Regions from separate parts of the Homo sapiens genome. Here all the other regions are linked to region 1. The links come from fine-mapping of genetic effects on gene expression. A gene starts in region 1. Each other region holds a variant in brackets. All regions are shown on one strand. Distances are from middle to middle.

What was found. PIP is the estimated chance that this variant, and not a neighbour inherited with it, causes the effect.
Region 2: its variant is fine-mapped to the expression of SPTBN2 in lymphoblastoid cells (GEUVADIS, PIP 0.95).
Region 3: its variant is fine-mapped to the expression of SPTBN2 in T cells (GENCORD, PIP 0.95).

What each region holds. Positions count from the first base shown.
Region 1 is chr11:66,724,400-66,732,578 of GRCh38, reverse strand. It overlaps SPTBN2 (spectrin beta, non-erythrocytic 2), which reads left to right and starts at 3,363. Exons shown (of 38, transcript NM_006946.4): 1 at 3,363-3,838.
Region 2 is chr11:66,105,531-66,113,709 of GRCh38, reverse strand. The region is part of intron 1 of PACS1 (phosphofurin acidic cluster sorting protein 1); the gene reads right to left. Among named protein-coding and RNA genes, the nearest start is that of PACS1, 39 kb to the right of the region's middle. RefSeq lists enhancers at 291-380, 5,907-6,750. The variant T/A (reference allele first, on the strand shown) is at 3,408.
Region 3 is chr11:66,696,911-66,705,089 of GRCh38, reverse strand. It overlaps SPTBN2 (spectrin beta, non-erythrocytic 2), which reads left to right. Exons shown (of 38, transcript NM_006946.4): 15 at 1-492; 16 at 3,369-3,506; 17 at 3,808-4,564; 18 at 5,482-5,684; 19 at 6,008-6,098; 20 at 6,305-6,451. Among named protein-coding and RNA genes, the nearest start is that of RBM4B, 23 kb to the right of the region's middle. The variant A/G (reference allele first, on the strand shown) is at 3,529.

The DNA of each region.
Region 1 (8,179 bases):
TCCCGGGTTCAAGCAATTCTCCTGCCTCAGCCTCCCGAGTAGCTGGGATTACAGGCGCATGCCACCACGCCCAGCTAATTTTTTTGTATTTTTAGTAGAAAAGGGGTTTCACTGTGTTAGCCAGGATGGTCTCAATCTCCTGACCTTGTGATCCGCTTACTTTGGCCTCCCAAAGTGCTGGGATTACAAAGTCGTGAGCCACTGCACCCGGCCTCTTTTCTCCATTTCCTATGTACACCATGTGTCCTGCAACATCAGGCCTGTTAGCCATATGCTCTGTGGCTAAGAACATGGGTTCAAGGGTCAGATTGGGTTAAAATCCCAGCTCTACCCTTGCCTGGTTTGATGACCCTGAGTAAGGTACTTAATCTCTCAATGTCTCCATTTCCTCATCTGTGAAATGGGGTTAATACTTACCTCTTGGAGTTGTTATAAAGGATTAAATGAAATGTTATGTGTAAAGTATTAGAAATACAGTTCCACGTTAATGTTAGTAACAGCTATTATTATTCCCCACTCTGTCTGGTTAATGCTTCTCATATTTCAGATCTCAGCTCAGGTGATCTGAGGTTATGACTCTGTTCAGTTCTCTCTTAACATCCTGAACTTTTCATTCATAACACTCATTATACTTTGTGGTTATATATCTGATGGGTTATTTTATTAATGTCTGTCAATCCCACCACAGGCTCTTCCAAGAGAAAACAGACAGTATCCATTTTACTCATCATTATATCCCCAGATCCCAGCACAGTGCCTGGTATATAATTAGCCATATAGTTTTTGCATAAATATTTGATTGAGCAGGGGCGAGGAAGTGAAGCCAATGAGTGCAAATGACTCAGGAAGACTGTGAACATAAAGAGCAAGGGGAATGCATGGAGGGAAGTCGGGGCTTCTTGATTATTTTTTAAGCTGGCAAATGCTTGAGCATGTTTAAATGCTGATGGGAAGGAACCAGCTGAGAGACAGCAGTGAGGGCCGTGAGGCTGCAGAAGGGGATGAGACTTAGCATAGGAGCCAGAAGAATCCATCTTAGGTGAAAAGAGGGACACCTCTTCCCTGGTATTGAAACAAGAACTGAGAATTCGGCTATGTATGTATGTTTGGTGGGCAGAGCCAAAACCTTTCCATGAATCTTGGTAATGTAAGCAGCAAATGTGGATTCACTGAGAAGCTCAACAAACTTGGTGGATATCATTCCATTCGCTTTTGCAACTCAAATAAGAAGGAACCAGATATTTTCTTCATCATTGACTGTACTGGTTCACTACAGAGCAAAATAACAAGTTTCCAAAGCAACCCAGTCACAGAGCTGAGATAGGTGATCTCAGTGTTCTCTTTATTCAATGTGCTTCCTCTCCAAATCGGGAAACAGTATGGGAAATAATACGGTAAAATCATAACGGCTGATACTGATTAAGTGCTTACTATGTGCTGCATATAATTCATTTACCTGCAATAATTCATTTGATGTTCCCCACATTATGGTGCCATTTTACATGTAAGGAAACTGAATCCTAGGGAGGTAACTTGCCCAAGGTCACATAGTCAGTGGGTGGCAGAACTATGTTTTAAACCCAAGGAGTCTGACTCCAAAATCAATGCTTTTAACCATTCTGCTATACTCCCTGTCTAGCAGAGAGGAAAGAACATATTAGGATTCAGAAGACCTGGAGTTTCTACCATGAACTAATTCTGTGAACTTGTACATTCACTTAGGTGTCTGAACATCAGTCTGTTCATCAATAGAATAAGAATGAGAATGTTTATCTTACAAGGCTTCTTGAAGGATTATGAAATGCTGAAAATAGGAAATTATAAAAGATATTATTTTGCTAATCATAAGACTTAATACCCTTGACTTCTAATTGGGTCACGATATTATAGGCTGTCATTGAGACCCTTAGTTCCCGTAACCAGTACAGCAGCAGCAGCTTGGTGGTTCCAGTTCCTTTGGCAGGGCAGCTGATTCTCTAATTTTTTTTTTTTTTTTTGGAGATGGAGTCTCGTTCTTGTTGCCCAGGCTGAAGTGCAGTGGCACAATCTCAGCTCACTGCAACCTCTGCCTCCCGGGTTCAAGCGATTCTCCTGCCTCAGCCTCCTGAGTAGCTGGGATTTCATGCCCACCACCACGCCTGGCTAATTTGTGTATTTTTAGTAGAGAAGGGGTTTCACCATGTTGGCCAGGCTGGTCTTGAACTCCTGACCTCGCGATCCACCTGCCTCGGCCTCCCAAAGTGCTGGGATTACAAGGGTGAGCCACTGCGCCTGGCCATGGGCAGCTGATTCTCATCCCATCAGCTTTAATGTCCCTGACCAAGTGTCCCTGATGACCGTCATGCACAGGTTGGTGCCTCCTTCCCCCGAACCAACCAACACATAATCCTACCTCTGGGAAGAGTTGCAGTTTATGCCCTTGTTTCTTTAATGCCATTGCCTGAAAGAGTGGCTATTAAAAATAATAAATAGCCTCAGGCCTGGCACGGCAGCTCACGTCTGTAATCCCAGCACTTTGGGAGGCTGAGGCAGGCAGATCACCTGAGGTCAGGAGTTCAAGAACAGCCTGGCCAACATGGCAAAACTCTGACTCTACTAAAGATACAAAAATTAGTCGGGCATGGTGGCATGCACCTGTAATCCCAGCTACTCGGGAGGCTGAGGCAGGAAAATTGCTTGAACCCGGGAAGAGGAGGTTGCAGTGAGCCGAGATCAAGCCACTGTACTCCAGCCTGGGTGACAGAGCACGACTCCGTCTCAAAATAATAATAATAATAAATAGCCTCAAATGCAGCTAACTGTGAGGTACACACCAGAGAGCCAGTTCCAGTTTCGTGGTAGAAGCACAGATATCAGAGCTAGGAGAGAACTTCAAAGTAATCTTTCAATGGAACTCCCCAACCCTCCTCCCAACCCATTTTATAGACTAGGAAAACCAAGGCGAGGTAGATGACACCACTAGTTAGGGTTGTCAAAACCATATCTGGAAAGTACTTCAATTGCACATATTTGTTTCAGTATGCATACCTTTTCAGAAAGGAGCAAAATCCTAAATTACCCATAAATCTATTATAAAACCTTAAATCCAATAATTCACTCAAAGCCCATTCTTTGAGTGCCCTTACTTGACCATTTCAGGCATTCCCTGGATAGAAACGGGCCCTCATCTTCAGGGGCAGTACATAACCTAACGGCTCTGTACAAAGCTCACCCTGTTACCACTGGCTCATCTCTGAGCTGAGTTCTCTAATCTGGAAGAACAGCACCTACTTCTCAGAGCTGGAGTGGGGGTGGGAGTGTCACATGAGATGATGCGCTTTTAGCACCCACCTGGCACTCTGTGAGTTTGTCATGATTTGGGCATAATTCCTTCCTCTCCTAAGCAGGCAGCAGTTCACCTTGGTTAAGGACCTTGGACCTTAGACCACTCAGACGCTAACAAACCAAGGAGAAACCCAGCCGTGTCAGGCCTAGAAATGTCTGCCCCCACCCCCACCCCCCTCAAGACGGTGACTAGGCCGGAATTCTCCTGGTTGATAAATGAGAGGAGCTGAGAAGCGCTGAGATGCCTGTTTGGAGCATCTGATCTGTAGAAGACGAATCTTCACTGTGCCATGGAGATGTTCTGGGAGGGAGAGCCGGCCCAGCTGCCTGAAGGAGGACGCGAGAGCGAGGGGACGGGTGAGAGGAATGCTTAGCGGAGACGGACTGGAGGTGCCCGGAGAGGAAAGGGGAACGGAGGCTGGATCTCGGGAAACCTCGTCGGCAGTGTCATTAGAGGAAGGATCGCGTGTCTCGGGGATACGGATTTTGGAGGAAAAGCAGAATAGGGACAAAGGTGAGGTGTCCGAACCGGGGAGATCAAGACCTGTAAGCTGTGGTGGGGGACCCAGGGACCAGCGAGGACGGGAAGGCGGGGTTTTGGGGGGACCCCGCACGGAAGGTGGCTGGGGGTCGGCAGCCGGCCTCGGAGCTGCTGCCGCGTTCGCCCCGAGGCAGGTCAACTACCCCGGGCGGGGAGCGGCGGGGAGCACCGAGAGGGGCCTCGGTTGCCATGGCGCTGGGCGGGGAAGGGGCGACTCGGGCCCCGCCCAGAGCCCCGCGGGGCCGCCGGCTCCAGATGGTCCCGGGCCTCCCGCGGGAGCCGGCGGCCTGCGGCAGGGGGAGGCTATTGTCCTCCTTCCGCGGCGCCGCAGTCCCGCCGCTCGCGCCCGCGCGCCGCCGCCACGCGCCCCGCCGCCGCCCGCCCCGCGCGCCCCCCGCGCCGCCTGCGCCCCGTGACAGCGCCCGCCCGCCGCCCGCCGTGCGCCCGGCCGCTGCCTGCAACCGCCCGTCGCGGCCGGGCTGCAGGCGCGGCAACTACCGGTGCGCCCCCGCCCGCCGCGCCCCCGCCCGCCCGGCCGCGGCTCCGCGCCGAGGTAGGTGCCGGCGCCCCGCCCGCTTTGTCCCGGCCCGCGGGGCGGCGCGCTTTGTCCGGCCGCGTGCGGTCGGCGGGGTCGGGGTCGGGGTCGGGGTCGGGTCCCGGCGGCCGGGGTGAGCCGGGGCGGGAGCAGGCGGGGACGGGACGGAGAGGGTCCCGTGCCAGCCACACAGGTACCGGGATGAGGGCGGTGGGGGCCAAGGCCGAGGGGGGGGGACTCGGGCCTCTCTGGAGCCGGGAGAAGAGTCTGGAACAGTTAGGGCTGACGGACACGTTCGCGGCGAGGCTGGGAGCGGGTCTGACAGCGCCGGCCCCTCGCGTCGCCGGGGCTGCGGGGCGGACGGGCCGGCGCCGGGCCAGGTGCTGGGGGCGCGCTCGGCCGCCTCTGCCCGGCGGACTGCGGGAGCCGGGCTCCCTCCTCCCCGGAGCCGCGTGGGCTCCTCCTCGCCTCTTTGGCAGCTGGCTCCACGCGCTCCCTTCTGTTCCCCCACAGTGTGTGGGAGAGGGGCACGCGGTTGGCTGTGGTGGCCGGAACTGGCCCGGGGAGAAAGCAGACGCTTCGGGCGGCGGGGAAGCGGCCGCGTGCGGCGTTTCTGTGGCCAGGAAGCTGATAGGGCTGTGCGGTCCGCCCCGCACGGAACTACCCAGCAAGGCCTGCTCGCGGGGGTGTTCCGGCTCCGGTGCCACAGTCGTGATTTACCTTCCACTCGCTTGGAACTTTACCCCATTGACCCCAGGACATTGCATGCTTGTGTGAGGTGCAGGTTTGCCCCGGTCTTAACCTGCTACATGTCGTCTGCCCTCCCCCTCTCGGAGCAGCCACAGTTCCAACGCTGGAGAGCCCGGGGGTTTCAGGTATGGGCAGAGGTAGCAACAAACCAGTTTTCCTTGAAGGTGAAGAGGGGCAGAGTGAGTTCCAAATATGTGTCTTAGCTTGAGGTGTGGGGCAACCTCTTGGCTTATTCAGAAAGGCAAAGGATTGGCCGAGGAGAAGATAGGATGGAGTTTACATTCTTCCCTTAGAGAAATTGATGTGACCCCGGGTTGGGGAAGGGAGATAGCAAGGGAGTGAAGAATCTGAATATTTGAATAAATCTGCCATAACTGGAGGATTCTAGAAGAGAAAATAAAATTTCAGTCCCCCTCTTCAGCCCAGTTCCTAACTTCCTCCGAGGGAATTGATCAGGAACACAGTCTGAGAGGTGGGTCGGGGTTTTGCTGTTCCTTCCTTCTGCCCTGGGCCCATCTTTCTCTTGCCTTCCTGGAGGCCCTGAGCTGATTTGTGACTTCTTTTTCGTTTTATCTCTCTGCCAGTCCACCCATTTATACTTAGAAGCAAATAAGATTTGAACTTTGCCAAAGTCCCCATTTCTTCTAATCTATTATTCATCTCACTGTCATTTGTTCAACTCTGCCTTCCCGTGACTTCTCTAGCTCTGCCGTTCTCCTCCCGCATATCTGCGGTTCGCTGTGCTGTTTCTTTCATTACCTGTGGTACCTACTCCATCTTCATCTTCCTCTCCCATCGCCTGAGCTCCTGAGGGGAAGTGATATTTGAGTTTAGTGTGGGGTAGGGCCTGAGCAGACCTAGAAGCTAACCCTGGGTCACACTCACCCCTGAAACTTTGTGTCTTCTCAACACTCATGGCTCCTCTAACCAATTCCAGCTGCTTCTCATCTTTGGACAAGGGTGGCCCTCAAAGTGTGGTCCCCAGACCATTAGCTTCAGTGTCACCCGGGAACAGGTTAGAAATGCACATTCCCAGGTACCACCCCAGAAGTACTGAATCGTAAACTGGGGGATGGGGGGGTGACCTGTGATTTAACAGTCCTCCAGGTTGTTGTGATTCATGGAAGTTTGAGAATCCCCAGACCTGAGCTGTTGAGCTCAACCCTGAAAGTATTCCAGCCCAGGAGCAGGTCTTCTCCAATCCCGTGTTCATTCTTTCCTTGAGCTTCTCTCTAGTCCTAAGAAAGACATTAATTCCATGGCCAAAAAAAATGAATTATAGTCAAGTCATTCAATATCTCTTTATTGAATATCTGTTGTACTGAGTCTGGAAAAACACCAAAACGAGTAAGACAGCCCTTGTCCTCAATGAGTTAAATGTGGAGCGGGCAGAGAGACACGTAAACAACTAACCGTAATGCGATGTGATAAGTACAATACTAGCTGCATGCCGAAGTGCCCTGGAAGCACAGAGGAGGGAATGATCAACTCTGAGGGAGGGAAATAATTCATCAGGAGCAGGATGTGGTGAGAGGAAGAATTAGGATACAAGGCAGCCTGTAGCCCAGGGTATAGGATTTCTAGCTTAACATGTCAGCTGAAAGAGAGGAAAACTGCCCTGGAGGATCGGCACGGTGAGCCTAGTCTGCCTCCAGCAGCGCCTGGAGTACATTCCAGCAGGACCCCAAGCCTGCAGCCGGCGGGGGTTGGCATTCTTCTAGCACTAACAGTGTAAGCTACTTGGGCCTGGCCTTGAGGTCAATTGCTAAGAATAAGGTATGATGAGACTGTAATCTGGATTAGCTACTGCACCACCCTATTGCCAGACTTCAGGAATCTGTGGAAGAGAGGACGATTGAGGATTCTCCAGCTTCCTCATGACAGGGGGTCATGAAGCTGGGGGGCTGCTGGCCGACTGAGGAAATGTGAGCATGGAGACCCTGGTCATAGGTGAGGAATGATCTACTCAGTGGCAAGAAACCAGCGCTGGATATGTGTAGGAGAAAAGCAAATAGAAATCAGTGGGAATCTAGAGATGGCAGCAGGGGACACAAGCTGAGAACACAGCATATTGTCCAAAAGGCCAGGGAGCTACAGAGCCAGAATGCTTGGAAACCAAGACCTAGAGACACAAAGGTAGCAGAGCCTCAGAGCCACATGCTGAACAATGCCAGAGAGCACCATTCACATGGAAGGCTGTGGAGTTGCAACATGGTGGCCCTGTGGGGGTCTGTGATCTAAGGACACCAGTGCCAGCTTGGTTCCTGATCCATATCACAGCATTTCTGGAAACTCAGAACACACAGCATGCATGCTTCAAATTCAATTTGGAGAGAGGAGCATTTAAGTGGCTGAGGTTTTATTTGGGGGAAGAGGAGGTTCTAGCTCCATACTTTCTCCTGGTAATGGTAGGAATCCGCAGAGACATTCTAACAGTTGGACTTCCCTGGAGGGTCTGGCTCCCAGTTGGGCCCCTTTGTAACTTTAACAAAACCCCCAATTCTGCATTTCTCCTGAGCCCTACTTCCTACCACCAGGGCTGTGGTCTTGGCAGTCTCTGGTTCTGGAAAGGAAGGAGGTATGGAGAAGAGAGAAGTGATGGGTGGTGAGACTCGGGTAGGTAGGGAGGTGTGTGCCCATGGACACACAAAGGCAGAACCTTTCTGGCTTCCATCATTAACTGGTTCCATGAAGCTGAACCTGACCTGCTTGAAGGCCAGGGTTGTCTGCCCCTCCCCTTGGGAGGACCAAGTTGGATCCCCAAAGATAAGCCTAAGCAGTCCATGTTTAGGTTCTGTGCAGCTTACAGGGGCCTCAGAGCTACTGTGGTTTGGAGACAGGGTCAGATGGTTAGCTTCTTTGAGTTTCTGCTCTTTGTGGAGTACAAAAATATGAGGCAGGGTTTGCAAACCTCAACAGTTGGGGCCAGGCAGGTAACATAGATATGTGAAGTGGCTGAGTCTGTAGACCCATCTAAAGGAATCCAAATCAGTCTTTTTTTTTTTCTGAGACAAATTTCACTCTGTCAT
Region 2 (8,179 bases), 620 kb after region 1:
CAGTTCAGCTGCTGTATTAACAGGAACAGGAGGAATCCTAAACATAAAGACTACAACTTCTGAAGAGGAAGTCTGATCAAAGTATACAAGTCATCATACCGAAAGGAACTGAGAGTTTAAAATATACTCTTATGTCTTCTTGTCAAACTACATGTGCTGCAAACATTTTTTTTCCTTGCTTGTTACGTTGTAAAAGTATCTGTTTGGAGATACTTAGTCTTTGAGGTGGAGACCCAACTAGCCTTGATGGTAAGTAAGTTCCAATAGCATATCTGAAGATAACCAATAACCCTGCAATTAGAAAGATGTTTTGCCAACTAGAGATTGAGGACAAGAGACCCAAAGGATGTTGGAACTGATTCAGAAACAGGAATGTAAGTACGTCTGGGATGAGTCAGCAGGTAGCTAGGAGAACTGGAAATTAAAAGAAAAGTCATCTGCCCAAGAAGTGGGTAGGTAAACAAAAGAAATCCAAAGTACATTTAAATGTCAGACACCAGTTCAACTTTGAGAAATAGTTTATATACAATAAAGTGGACTGATTTAATTGTACATTTTGATAAGTTCTGACAAATTTATACCTGTGTAATCACCACCATATTTAAGATACAGAACATTTCCATTACCCTAAAAGTTCTGTGTTCCATCCCAGTCAACCCTCTCCCATCCTGGGTTCTGGTTAGCCACTTTTCTCTTACTATAAATTAAATGCCCTTCCTAGAATTTCATATCAATGGAATCCTAAGTATGTGCTCTTCTGTGTAAGGCTTCCTTTCATGCAGCATAATGCTTTCAAGATTCATCCATATTCCACCATGTATCATTCTTTTTATAGCCAAATCATAGCCACAGTTTATTCATTCATGTGTTGATGGGCATTTGGGTTCTTTCCAGCTTTTGTTATTATGAACAAATCTGCTATGAATAAGCAAGGCACCAGAGGCTTTTGATAACTTTCATTTCCCCATTCAGCACTGTCCATGTACTCTCAGTTCACTACAACTCGACCCCTGGCACTGGCCCATGCACAACGGGAAAAGCAGTCACTTATTCAACAAATAGATATAAAGGGTCTACTGGATGTCAGGAACTGTTCAGGCACTGAGAACTCAGTCATGAACGAGACAGATATAACCCCTCTCCTGTAAAACACACAAACAAAATCATGTCGGATAAGGTATGTAATAGAAAAAAAGTTTAAAGTAAAATATTAAGAAAGCAACGAGAGGCATGTGACTAACTGCGCAGCGAGGGAAGGCCTGTCTGCGCTGAGTGAGACCTGAATGACACCAACGGGACAGCCATGTAACCTTCTGACATCCAAGCATTTCCAAGAACTGCAAGCACAAAGGCCCTAAGGAGAGACTGAGCCTCTCCTATCCAAGCAGCAGCAGAAGGCAGGCCATGTGGCAGGCATGCAGCAAACTAGGCGAAGAGGGTAAGAAACAGGCTGGAGAGCAGGCAGAGGCCAAGCCAAACAGGATCTTGTAGGCCAGGAGAAGAAGTCTGGGTTTTACTGGAGGGGATTAGGCAGGTGAGTGCAACAATCAGATCTGCATTTCAAAGAGACCACTCTGCCGGCAGTGTAGAGAAGAACTGCACAGGCAGTGAAACAGATCAGTCTGGTGGCTACTGCGTGATGCAGGTGAGACAGGGTGGTGTGAACGACAGGAGAGCAAGGGAACCACGGGGGATGGGAAGGGTTCAGAATCAATAGCTCCTGCTGAGGGACTACATGAGGCAGGCATTATAAAGAAGAATCTGAGCTGGGTGCAGTGGCTCACACCTGTAATTCCAGCACTTTGAGAGGCCAAGGCAGGCGGATCACTTGAGGCCAGGAGTTCAAGACCAGCCTGGCCAACATGGTGAAACCCCATCTCTATAATACAAAAATTAGCTGGGCGTGGTGGCGCATGCCTGTGATCCCAGCACCTAGGGAGGCTGAGGCAGGAGAATCACTTGAACCCGGGAGGTGGAGGTTGCAGTGAGCAGAGATCACGCTACTGCACTCCAGCCTGAGCAGAGTGAGTGAGTCAAAAACAAAAAACAAAACAAAACAAAAAAAAGAATAATAATCTGGGATAATTCCTAGGTTTCTGGCTTAGGCAGCTAGGTGGATAATATAGTTGACTGAGGTGGGGACAATTAGAGGAAAAACAGGTTTGGCGTTGTGGAGAGAATCAAGAGTTAGGTCCTTGTATTAAATTTGTGATGCTGATCCAATATCCAAATGCAGATGTCAAATAGGCACTTGGATACATAAGTCTGGAGTTAAGAAGAAAAGTCAGTGCCACGTGTCTGATATTAGGAAATAGTACCTGAAGCTAAGAAGTGGATTATAGAGACAGTTCTGCTTTTAAAACTAGTACAGTCATGCACCGCAGAACAACATGCAGTCAACAATAAACCACATATACAACAGGGGTCCCATAAGATTATAATGGAGTTGTTCTATACAGATGCAACATTTTTTATACTGTATTTTTACTGTACCTTTTCTATGTTTAGATCCACAAATACCACTGTGTTACAATTGCCTAAAGTTGAATCAGTGCTGTACAGGTTTGTAGCTTAGGAGCAACAGGCCATACCACACAGCCTAGGTGCGTAGTGGGCTATGCCATCTGGGTTTGTGTAAGTACACTCAATGATGACATGTTTCTCAGAACACATTCTCATCCTTAAGTGACACATGACCCTGTATATATACCTCTAGCAGCGTACCAGGATAATACCAGATAAATAGGTCAAGTGACTCCGAGATCAATTTTACTTAGACTTGGGAGGGTTGGTAGGGAAGAAAGTTTTGTAGCTGAACACACGTATAAAGAGTAAAATGTTGGCTGGGTGCTACGGCTCATGCCTGTAACGCCAGCACCTTGGGAGGCTGAGGCGGGAGGATCACTTGAGGTCAGGAGTTCATGACCAGCCTGGCCAACATGGCAAAACCCCGTCTCTACTAAAATACAAAAATTAGCTGGGCATGGTGGTGCACACCTGGAGTCTCAGGTACTCAGGAGGTGGGAGGATCACTTGAACCCAGGAGGCAGAGGCTGTAGTAGTGAGCCGAGATCGCATCACTGCACTCCGGCCTGGGCAACCAGAGTGAGACCCTTTCTCAAAACAAAACAAACAAAAAAAAACTACAGGAAAGAGAAGGATCATTTCTATCAGACTTTAGAGTTTTTTGTGGAATATGCTATGAAGACAAGACATGCCATTAAAATCAAGAGGCATTTAGCTAGACGCAGGTGCCTGTGGTCCCAGCTACTCGAGAAGCTGAGGCAGGAGGATCCCTTGAGCCCAGGAGGGCGAGGCTGCAGTGAGCTATGATCATGCCTGTGAAAGCCACCATACTCCAGCCTCGGTGACACAGTGAGAACTTGTCTATATATGTATAAAAAAAA[T/A]TTTTTTTTTTAAATCAGGAGACATTTGATATGAGTGTTGGTAGTTTATCAAAGGGTCATGAAGCAATCAGGCATGTAATAAGTACTTTTTAATTATTTCAATTCCATGAATCATCAATGAGACTAAGGTAAGATATAACTACTCCCTCAATCTCAATGCTTTCAGAGAAGTCAATTATACTCTCATAAACATATCTGAGCACAGGCACCAGATCCGTTTAAAGTAAATGGCAACCAAGACAAACTTAATTTAATGTTATGTGTGTCCCGTTGAGAGGGGAAAAAGAAATACTGGCATACTATGTAAGGAAGTCTCTGGAGCTATAACTTATCAAATCACTTGTGCCGTTTATATCTTAAGAACTTCACAAAATACTGCATCAGTAACTGTAATTTCATAAACAGAGTATTAATGCTGGCTGACAACCTCCCTTATCACTTATTAATGGCAAACAGTAGGCTCTAACAGGAACAGCTTTCACTTAACACCAGGAATTGCCTTTGTAGAAAGCGAGGAGATGAGGAGAGAGAACTAAAGGTTCAACTCAAACTTACTAAGGAAAAGAAATCAGAAACAAATCAAAATCAATTTTTACTTCATCATCAATAGAGTATGAACAGAAAAGTCACTGGCTGTTGAAACAACACAGCAGAAAATGTGGAAGATAAAGGCTGGGGAGAGAGGCTGGAGTAACTGTAGCAAAAGAACCAAAGCCAGGTGAAGATGAAGAAAAAGGGCTTAGGTTAGAGTGTGAAGGAACTACCTTCTTGTTACTATAAAGATGGGTGATGACAATAATGATGGTGACATGACTCATATGCTGTTGTGTGGTAAACTATGCACACACTTCTTCACAGACCTGAAAGACCATATGCGACCTTCTCTTTTTCTTTTACTTTTTGTTAAAATAGAGATGGGGTCTCACTATGTTGCCCATGCTGGTCTCAAACTCCTTGGCTCAAGTGATCCACCTCAGCCTCTCAAAGTACTGGGATTACATGCGTGAGCCACCACGCCTGGCCATATGCGACCTTCTCAATGAAACTTTTCCTGACACATCCATCCATCCCCAGGTACTCACCACCCTTCTCTGAAACTGGCTCTGTCTCCTCTACTGGTGGAGGGTACGGGATATCCCCTGCAGCTGGCATAAAACTTGGCACATAGTTTTGTCTTCAATAAATGCTAGTTTAAAAAGTGAACGAAGGCCATAGTGTCTGTGTGAGATATTGCACCTGAAGCATAAGGTTATTTGTTCCAGTCAAAGAGGTATCACTTGCTATGGACTGAGTTGTGTCATCCTAAAATTCTTAGTTTTGTTTTGTTTTTAGAGACAGGGTCTTGCTGCTCTGTCATCCAGGCTGGAGTACAGTGGCACAAACATAGCTCATTGCAGCCCTGAACTCTTGGGCTCAAGCAATTCTCCTACCTCAGCCCCAAGTAGCTAGGACTACAGACACATCAGCACACCCAGCTAACTCATTCATTCTTTCTTTCTTTCTCTTTCTCTCTCTTCTCTCTTTCTCTCTTTCTTTTTGAGACAAGGCCTCTCTCTGTCACTCAGGCTAGAGTGCAGTGGCACAATCATGGCTCACTGCAGCCTCAATTACCCAGGCTCTAGTGATCCTCCCACTTCAGCCTCCCAAGTAGCTTGGACTACAGGTACATACCACCCTGTCTGGTTAATTTTCTTTTTTTCTTTGTAGAGATAAGATCTTAATACTCAGGCTGCCAGCTTTTGTAGAGACAGGGGGTCTTGCTATGATGCCCAGGCTGGTTTCAAACTCCTGGGCTCAAGCGATCCTCCCACTTTGGCCTCTCAAAGCTCTGAGATTGCAGGTGTGGGCTGCCATACCTGGCCCTAAATTCCTATACTGGAGCCCTAATCCCTAAAGTGACTGCATTTGGAGATAGTGCCCTAAGGATGTAATATGGTTAAATGAGGTCAGAAGGGTGGGGCCCTAATCTGATAGGGCTGGCATCCTTATTAAAGGAAGACACAAGGGCTTACATATGCTCTCTGTGCACAGAGGAAAGGCCACATGAAGACACACCTAGAATGTGCCCGTCTGCAGCCAAGAAGAAAGGCCTCACCAGAAACCAACCCCTACTGGCACCTTAATCTTGGACTTCCAGTCTCCAGAACTGTGAGAAAATGTTTGCTTTTTAAGCCACTCATTCTATGGTATTTTGTTATGGTAGCCCATGCAGACTAACACAACACTCAAACTAGAAAATGAGCCTTGCTGGGTTCTCTTGGCCTTGTTGGCAGCTGTCATGATGTACAAAAGGGAGCTCCTTAGTAACAGATTATGAGATGGTGCCACATGCAGGGCATCAAGGCAAGGTCAGGACTAGTCCTATGAAGCTGGAATTAGATTTCTCCTAAGTGGGTAGATTAGGATGGGGCCTGCAAAATATGAGAACAAGCTAGATATGGCAGCTCCAAGAGTGAAACACTGTTAAGCCAGACTGTTGTAATACTTGTTGCATTCTCTATGCTGGTTTCTCTATTGTTCTTAGTACTCAAAACACTTCCTTGAACTCTCCAGCCTATCTCAGTTATGCTAAGAAAGAATCAAGAGAAGATGTTTTTGTCCTTGTTCATTAAAGGGGGAACAGAGCATCCCTGGCCAACGTGGTATAGTGGTAACAATCATATAAGTAAAAGAATTCCAAGCAGAGGGTGAAACTCAGTGTCCCAGCCATTTCATTCATTCAACAAATATTTACCAAGCACTTACTATGTGGTTGACCCTAATCTAACCACTGGGGATAGAACAGTGAACAAAATCAGTACAAATCATGGCCCTCATGGAGCTTTCATTCTACCTGGAAACAGGGAGACAGTAAACAATCAGCATAGTATACAGGAAAAGGATATAGTGTGTTAGCAGTTGACAAGTGCTATGGAGAAAGGGAAGCAGGAATAATGTGGGGGGAGGGGAGCACAGGACAGGCCTCACTGGGATGGATGACACATGAGCAAACACTTTGAGGAGGAGTGAAAATGAACCATGACTCTATGTGGCAGAGGCAGTGCAGAGACCAAGGCAGATCATAATTGACATTTTCAGGAAAGAGCAAAGAAGCCTGCGTGGCTGCAAGGGAGTGACCTGGGAGGAAGTAGTAGGTGGTCAGACTGGGGGAGGGTGCTGTCCGCAGGGAGTCATTTCATGTAGACTCACAGACCACTGAATGGCATTTGAATGAAATGAGAACAGGTACTTCATGTCTTCCCAACTGCTAAACCTGGGAGGTAATATTCCCTTAAGGAGTAGGCTTCTCAAAGGGTAAAATCTTTAGTACTTTGTTTTGTGCTGCAGAATTCCTGCCCGGGGCAAGAATGCTCACATGAAGCCCAGAGGCAATGGCTTGAACACCAACTGTAGATATCCTGGAAAGGTAGTTTGGTAGAAGAAACACAAAAACCTATTTAGCAGCAAACTCACCACACAACCTTCGGAAAGGTATAAAGAACCAGTTTTGCATGTGGAGAAACTAAGGTACAAAGACAAGATTTATCTTTTTTTTTTTTCTCTGAGACAGGGTCTCGCTTTGTCATCCAGGTTGCATGCAGTGCAGTGGTGTGATCCTGGCTTACTGCAGCCTCAACCTCTTGGGCTCAAGCGATCCTCCCACCTCAGCCTACCTCTTCACCTCCACCCAGTAGCTGGGATTACAGGCATGCACCACCACGCCTGGCTAATTTTTTTATATTTTTTTTTATTTTTTGAGATGGAGTCTCATTCTGTCACCCAGGCTGGAGTGCAGTGGCACGATCTCAGCTCACTGCAACCTCCCCGGGTTCAAGTGATTCTCATGTCTCAGCCTTCCAGGTAGCTGGGATTACAGGTACGTGTCACCACGCCCGGCTAATTTTTGTATTTTTAGTAGAAATGGGGTTTCACCATGTTGGCCAGGTTGGTCTTGAACTCCTGGCCTCAAGTGATCTGCCCACCTCAGCCTCCCAAAGTGCTGCGATTACAGGCGTGAGCCACTGCACTCGGCCATTTTTGTATTTTTTATTTTTCATTTTTTGTAGGTTCTCCCTCTGTCGCCCAGGTTGGTCTTGAACTCCTGGGCTCATGTGCTCCTTCCGCCTCAGCCTCCCAAAGTGCTGGGATTACAGGTGTGAGCCACAGCGGTGGGCCTCAGCTACATTTTTAAAGGCAGGCTGAAAGTGAAATGAGAAGAAAACCAAATGACTACTTCAAATGACTTGCATCTTCTAGAAAATGCTGCCTCTTTACATGACACTGTGGAAAAGCTAGCCAGAATAAGAGGAAAGGAGGAATGACGCTTTGAGAAAACCCAAACATTAGACATTCTCACCCAGGCCACTCCTTTCTACCCTGCCTGTATGGGTTTCATCTCAAATAAAAAGGCTTTTATCTAAATGTAAGCTTGTAAACCCAATTCAGGTTCCAGCCAAGGATGCTTATAGGCATACTCCTCCCAGAAAGTATACTGTAGCTGTGTATCTCAGGATAAAGTGGAATATCTATCCATAAAGCCTATTCTCATTACCAATGCTGAGATTCAACACCATCTCTAATTTCTGATTATTGTGTTATTTGTGATCCACATTAAAGATTCTATTTCTGTACATAGTGCAGGGAAGGGCATGGAAAGTTTATACATATTTAAAATCATTTCTGAAAAGATGAGTAAGCAATAGTATTAAAGAAAATTTTGGAGAGAAAAACCACCAAAAATTCCACTGTCTTAAAATGATTTCATTTTCACATTATCTTCCAGTCTTTGTCCA
Region 3 (8,179 bases), 27 kb after region 1:
GGAGCGGCTAGAGGCCCTGGCCGAGGAGCGTGCCCAGCGGCTGGCCCAAGCCGCCAGCCTCTACCAGTTCCAGGCCGATGCAAACGACATGGAGGCCTGGTTGGTTGACGCACTGCGCCTGGTGTCCAGCCCCGAGCTGGGGCACGACGAGTTCTCCACGCAGGCTCTAGCCAGGCAGCATCGGGCCCTGGAGGAGGAGATTCGAAGCCACCGGCCAACCCTGGACGCCTTGAGGGAACAGGCAGCAGCCCTGCCCCCCACACTGAGCCGCACGCCCGAGGTGCAGAGCCGGGTGCCCACCCTGGAGCGGCACTACGAGGAGCTGCAGGCCCGGGCAGGCGAGCGAGCGCGGGCCTTGGAGGCAGCCCTGGCGCTCTACACCATGCTCAGCGAGGCCGGGGCCTGTGGACTCTGGGTGGAGGAGAAGGAGCAGTGGCTCAACGGGCTGGCCCTGCCTGAACGCCTGGAGGACCTGGAGGTCGTGCAGCAGAGGTAGGCCCCTCAGGCTCCTAGTGGGACCAGCCTTGGGAGGTGGGGGTGGGGGGGCCAGGATGTGGGTGGTGAGTCCCTCCATAAACTTCCTGCCTCACCCCTTTGAGTCTTAATGGTTGTCCATTTCTAGTTTTAACAAAAAATGTTAACCATACTCACAAGTAGAGACATTTCACCACAAACCCCTCTACACCCGTCACCCAGATTCAGTCATTGCCAACATCTTGCTCTATTTGGTTCTCTGCCCTTTTAAAAAGCAAATCCCCAAGATTAGCACATCCCTCCTACCTTCTTCAGGGTGTGCCCTTTAAGAAATACAAGGAAGCGGCCGGGCACGGTGGCTCACACCTGTAATCCCAGCACTTTGGGAGGCCGAGGCAGGCGGATCACGAGGTCAGGAGGTCGAGACCATCCTGGCTAACATGGTGAAACGCTGTCTCAACTAAAAATACAAAAAATTAGCCGGGCACAGTGGGGGGCGCCTGTAGTCCCAGCTACTCGGGAGGCTGAGGCAGGAGACTGGCATGAACCTGGGAGGCGGAGCTTGCAGTGAGCCGAGATCGTGCCACTGCTCTCCAGCCTTGGCGACAGAGCGAGACTGTCTCAAAAAAAAAAAAAAAAAAAAGAAAAGAAATACGAGGAAGCATTCTTACCTACAATATATTATTTTCAAATTGTCTGTGTGGACTTAAAATAGCTGAGGCTTTGAAGTTATAAACCTTTTAGACAGAGACACTAAAATAGTTTTATTTACAGAATAAATCTTCAAATCATTTATTCAATAATAAATCTTAAAAATTTTTTTATAGAACCACAATACCATTATCACATAGAACAAAATTAGGAATTTCTTTTTTTTTTGAGATGGAGTCTCACTCTGTCACCCAGGCTGGAGCGCAGTGGTGCGATCTCGGCTCACTGCATGCTCTGCCTCCCGGGTTCCAGCGATTCTCCTGCCTCAGCCTCCCAAGTAGCTGGGACTACAGGCACCCACCACCATGCCCAGCTAATTTTTTGTATTTTTTTATTAGTAGAGACAGGGTTTCACCATGTTAGCGAGGATGGTCTCGATCTCCTGACCTCGTGATCCACCCGGCTTGGCCTCCCAAAGTACTGGGATTACAGGCATGAGCCACTGCGCCGGGTCAGGAATTTCTTGATATGATCTATGATCAATGTGTAATCAAATTTCCTGGTGTTTAAAAAAATATAATTAGGTCAGGCCTGGTGGCTCACACCTGTAATCCCAGCACTTTGGGAGGCCAAGGCAGGAGTATCACTTGATTCCAAGAGTTCATAACCAGCCTGGGCAACATAGTGAGACTCCACCTCTACAAAATTTTTTTTTTAATTAGCCAGGCATGGTGGCAGGCGCCTGTAGTCCCAGCTACTGGGGAGGCTGAGGCAGGAGGATTGCTTGAGCCCAGAGGTCGAGGCTGCAGTGAGCTGAGATCGTGCCACTGCACTCCAACCTGGGTGACAGAGTAAGACCCTGTCTCAAAAAAATAAATAAAAATAAAAATGTAATTAAAGATTTTTTTTAGTTTTCAAGGTATCCTAATGTAGAGGTTAACAAACTGCAACCCTTGGGCCAAATCCAGCCTGCTGCCTGTTTCTGTAAATAAAGTTTTTTTTGGTTTTTTTTTTTTTTTTTTTTTTTGAGACGGAGTCTTGCTCTGTCCCCCAGGCTGGAGTGCAGTGGCACAATCTTGGCTCACTGCAAGCTCCGCCGCCCGGGTTCACGCCATTCTCCTGCCTCAGCCTCCCAAGTAGCTGGGACTACAGGCACCCGCCACCACACCTGGCTAATTTTTTGTATTTTTAGTAGAGACGAGGTTTCACCGTGTTAGCCAGGATGGTCTCGATCTCCTGACCTTGTGATCCACCCATCTCAGCCTCCCAAAGTGCTGGGATTACAGGCGTGAGCCACCATGCCCGGTCTGTAAATAAAGTTTTACTGGAACAGAGCTACACTCGCCCTTTTGCGTATTGCCCGTGGCTGCTTTCAGGCTACAGCAGCAGGGCTGAATAGTTGCCGCAGCAGCTGCATGGCTCACGAAGCCTATAATATTTACCATCAAGCCCTTCACAGAAAACATTTGCAGACCCTGCCCTATTAGAACATCAAATGTCGGCCAGGCGAGGTGGCTCACGCCTGTAATCCCAGCACTTTGGGAGGCCAAGGCGGGTGGAGCATGAGGTCAGGAGTTCAAGACCAGCCTGGCCAAGATAGTGAAACACCCGTCTCCACCAAAAATACAAAAATTAGCTAGGCTTGGTGGCGGGCACCTGTAATCCCAGCTATTCGGGAAGCGGAGGCAGAAAATTGCTTGAACCCGGGAGGCGGAGGTTGCAGTGAGTCGAGATTGCACCACTACACTCCAGCCTGGGTGACAGAGCGAGACTCCATCTCAAAAACAAAACATAAAATGTCCCTGGAAGAAGTTATCCTTCACATTTTCATCACTCAGACAAATATTTTTGGTTATTACTTCATTTTCTAACACATATTAGTGGGATGAGACCCAGATAGGCAGCTAAGGGGGAAGTCCCAGGAGGCTGAGCAGCTCTGATAAAGGGTTGGCCCCATGCCAGGGTCTAGTTTGACTTGTGTGTCTGTTCCTGACCTTTACCTTTCACCATCTTTTGAGCATTTCTAGCGATGACAGTTATTCTGCTTGTTTTGGGGGAGTTGTGGGTTCCTTCCTTGATGCACAGATACTATGAACCTCATAGGCTGAGAGGCAGAGAGACTCCTGCAGATAAGCCTCCTGGTGAAGGAGACACCCTCCTGGGTGTTTAAGAGAGGTGGACTTAGGTGGACTGGGCACATCGCTGCCTCCCACAATTCACGCCTGGCTCTTCCACCCTCTCAGGTTCGAGACCCTGGAGCCTGAAATGAACACCCTTGCAGCACAAATCACCGCGGTGAATGACATTGCCGAGCAGTTACTGAAGGCCAACCCCCCAGGCAAAGACCGCATTGTCAACACCCAGGAGCAGCTCAACCACAGGTGGGTTTGGGAGGGCAGGACC[A/G]GGAAACTGACAGAAAAATGAAGCAATGGGGATGGCAGTGAGAGGCAGGTTTTGTAGGGCCTGGAAGGGTGGCTACAAAGGAGGAAGCAAACCAGTCTGGAATATGTTGGGGAAGGAAAAAGGATGAAAGAGATGAGAGAGGGGGTCAAGGTGGTCTGAAGCGGCTGCTGGCCAGAAAGGGAGGAGTGAAGGGGAGCTACCAAGAGAGAGAGAAGCAGGGAAGAAGCTTCCAAACAGGCCTGGCCAGGGCAGGAAGCTGAACCTTCCCCCTGCTCTCAGGTGGCAGCAGTTTCGGCGTCTGGCAGACGGCAAGAAGGCAGCTCTCACCTCAGCCCTGAGCATCCAGAACTACCACTTAGAGTGCACGGAGACCCAGGCCTGGATGAGAGAGAAGACCAAAGTCATCGAGTCCACCCAGGGCCTAGGCAACGATCTGGCTGGGGTGCTGGCCCTGCAGCGCAAGCTGGCCGGCACGGAGCGGGACCTGGAGGCCATCGCCGCCCGGGTGGGCGAACTGACTCGAGAGGCAAATGCCCTGGCTGCCGGCCATCCCGCTCAGGCAGTGGCCATCAACGCCCGGCTGAGAGAGGTGCAGACCGGCTGGGAGGACCTCAGGGCCACCATGCGGCGTCGAGAAGAGTCGCTGGGGGAGGCGCGGCGGCTGCAGGACTTCTTGCGCAGCTTGGATGACTTCCAGGCCTGGCTAGGCCGCACTCAGACTGCTGTGGCCTCTGAAGAAGGGCCGGCCACCCTGCCTGAGGCAGAGGCCCTCCTGGCCCAACATGCAGCCCTGCGGGGAGAGGTGGAGCGGGCCCAGAGCGAGTATAGCCGGCTGCGAGCCCTGGGCGAGGAGGTGACCCGGGACCAGGCTGACCCCCAGTGCCTCTTCCTACGACAGCGACTGGAGGCCCTGGGAACTGGCTGGGAGGAGCTGGGCCGAATGTGGGAGAGCCGGCAAGGTCGCCTGGCCCAGGCCCACGGCTTCCAGGGATTCCTGCGGGATGCTCGTCAGGCTGAGGGCGTGCTCAGCAGCCAGGTGAAAGTCCAGGGCAAAGTCCCAAGCAGGAGGAAGAGCAAAGTAGGGACCCGGGGAAATGTGAAGGAGCAGGATGGGCAGGAAGGACATGCTAGCAAAATGGGGCAGCGCAGTGGTTCACACCTGAAATTCCAGCACTTTGGGAGGCCAAAGTAGGAGGATCACTTGAGGCTGAGAATATCCAGACCAACCTGGGCAACATGGCAAGACCTTGTCTCTACAAAAAAATTTTTTTAAGAAAATAGAAGAATTTTTTAAAAAGAAAAATGGGAGCCAGACAGGATGGCTCACACTTGTACTCCCAGTATTTTGGGAGGCCGAGGCAGGAGAATAACTTGAGCTCAGGAGTTTGAGACCAGCCTGGGCAACATAGTGAGACCCCCATCTCTATGAAAAAAAAAAATTAACTGGACATGGTGGTGCATGCCTGTAGCTCCAGCTACTGGGGAGGCTGAGGCTGGTGGATCACTGGAGCCAGGAGTTTGAGGCTGCAGTGAGCTATGATATGCCACTGCACTCCAACCTGGGCCACAGAATGAAACCCTCTCTCAAAAAAAAGAAAAAGAAAAAAGAAGGAAAAATGAGAATGAAAAAGACGTGAATATAATTTACTAAAACTGACTTTAGAAGAAATAGAAAGCCCAGTTTGTCATGTAACTGTTAAATGGAATCAGGAGCTAGAAGTGAGATAGAACAGGATTTGGGCTGGGGAATGGAAGGTCCTTCCCACCCAGCTTCCCTGTGACTTTCTGAGGCTCCCATGCTGGCTGGCAGCCTCCCTGTCTTCAGAGCTCTCTGGGCTACCCTCCCTGTCTGCTTGTTGGTCCCTACCTCTCAGATTTGCCCCTGGGTGGGTCCCTCCTAGGGGGGTGAATTGTGCTGGGGAAAATGAGCTGAATGTCATCCCTCCCACACAGGAATATGTTCTGTCTCACACGGAGATGCCAGGGACACTCCAGGCTGCTGATGCTGCCATTAAAAAACTGGAGGACTTCATGAGCACCATGGACGCCAATGGGGAACGGATCCACGGGCTCCTGGAGGCTGGCCGCCAGCTGGTATCTGAAGGCAACATCCACGCCGACAAGATTCGGGAAAAGGCAGACTCCATTGAGAGGAGGTCTGATGAGGACAGTCCATGAATTAGGGTTCCCAGGGGGGAATCGGAGAAACAGGGTGACCTCAAAGATAAACGTGGCACAGGAAACCCACAGATGGGGCAGGAGCTGACAGAGAAGTAGAGGGGAAGAACTAAGTGGTTGGAGAGGGCTGGGAGATTCCACCCCCAACCAGGGCTAAAAGGAAGTCAGGATTCCTGGGTAGCCTCATTGTGCTCCCGGAAGGCGTTATTCCCCTAGAAGAAATGGAGGCCCCTAGGTTAGCCAAAGGGTCACAATCCTTTCACAGCAAATTCCAGAGTTTCACAAGAGGGTGTCGTTCCAGGCACAAGAAGAATCAAGACGCAGCGCAGCAATTTCTGGGCCGTCTTCGGGACAACCGGGAGCAGCAGCATTTCCTGCAAGATTGTCACGAGGTGAGGCTCCCTGGGGCCCCGGGATATTCCCTAGCCATCCCTTTCTCACCTTGAGCCTAGAATAAGTCCAGCACAAGGTACCGGAGACTGTGAGCCCCTTCATGGCTTCTTCCCAAGGCGCCCACTTCTCCTGGCTCACTGTGGCCCTGCTTTTATGCCCCCCTCTCCCCTCCCTTGGAAATGTCCCTGTTTTATGTTTGGTCCAGCTGAAGCTCTGGATCGACGAGAAGATGCTGACAGCCCAGGACGTGTCCTATGACGAGGCCCGCAACCTGCATACTAAGTGGCAGAAGCACCAGGCATTCATGGCCGAGCTGGCTGCCAACAAAGACTGGCTGGACAAGGTGGACAAGGTGAGCAGTGCTGTGGGGGCTGCCTCTGGGCAGAGTCCCCCATGGTACGGGGGAGGGCCTGGCTCCAGGACGTGGTTTTTGTCATGGTTAGAGATTGTGGGGTTCTGGTGCCACAGCTCCATGGTGGAAAGTTATGGCCTCTGGGAAACAAACGTCTTTGTTGGAGACAAAGAGTGGGACAGTGAGTCCAGAACCTTGATAAAGTACAAATTAGCAGGTAGCGAAACTGCAGCCTGGATTTAACGCCATAACTGTTCCTGAGTTCAAAGCAGGATGGTGCTCTTCAGCAGGCTCTGCAAACCTTGTCTGGAAAGGGCTTGGGCTGGATGGTCAATATCTGAGGCTTTGCAGTCCAAACAGTTTCTACTACAACTACTCATCTCTGTCGTTGTAGTGCAAAAGCAGCCTCAGAGAATAAGTGAATGAATGAACATGGCTGTTTCCCAATAAAACTTTATTTGTAAAAACAGGCAGTGGGCCAGATTACCCCGTGGGCTGTATGTAGTCTGCCAATCCTTATTTTCGAGTCTTGCCGTCCCTGGTTCTTGGTCTCCCACCCAGCTGTTCCTCAAGAGTCAAGGACAGATAAAGCTTTATATCTGCTCAGCAAGTATCCCTACAGAACATGGTACGTGCTCAACAGTCTGCGAGGCACTGCAGGGTCTACGAAAAGACACTTTCCTTTTCTCAAGGGCATGATGGTTGGGACAAAAGGAGACCAGTGTGCTTTCAAGTGTTTCCATTCGTTCAGCAAATATTTACTTGGTGCTACTATATCCAAAGCATTGTATTAGGCCCTGCGTGGGGTCCGAAAGGGATCCCATGGTAGGCTCCACCCTGAAGGAACAACACTGTAGCCAGGATATGAGGCATATATGCAGGTAGCTAAATCGAATCCAGAGCAGAATCTGATGAGTGCTGTGAGAGTGGCCCCGTTGAAGCCTGGGGAATAAGGAGAGAGGAGATATGGAAATTCTAGAAGCAGCAACATCCAGGGCAGTCCATGGAGGATGAGTAGAATTTGGACAAGTGGAGATATGGAGGAAAAGATGTTTCCAGGTAGAGAAAACCAAACAGAAAACCAGTGGTAGGCAGTGCCTGTTTGGGAGCAAGGGGGTGAGTGAGTCCAGCAGCAGCACAGAATGTGTGCAGGGCCCCATGGAAGAAGAGGTGGGAGAGAAGCCCCGGGAAGTCCTGACCACCACATGCGTGTGCTTCCAAGTGTTGATTGTGCTCAGGGTTGTGAAGCTACCCAGGCAGTGCTAGCCTTTGATGCTCTCCATCCTGACAGCCACAGCCACCTGCAAAATGGCCTGAAGGCAGTGTCTGGGTTTGTGTTCCCCTAGAAGCAGACCCTGAAACAGTGATTCTAGGGAGGTGTCCCCGGGAATGATCAGTAGGGGGGTGGAGCCATGAGAAGGGACAGAAGTCATGCCAGTTACCCCCATGGGCATCAGGAGCCCAACCCTCATGGGGCATTCTGCGGGGGTGTAGATGGAACACAGAACACAGCACTCTCACAGCCACGGCACAAGGATGCTGTGTGTTTATCCATCAGCTCCCTGTCTGTCACTGGTTGAGGGCTGCTTCTGGGCTTGTTAACTCTGTGGCTCTTCCAATTTGCCTTCCACACAGTTCAAGAGAGCACACTTCCCTCACCACCCCAGACACAGAAATCCTCAAGCAGAAAAGCTGGAAGTGGGGAAACCAGGTGGGACTCAACTTGCT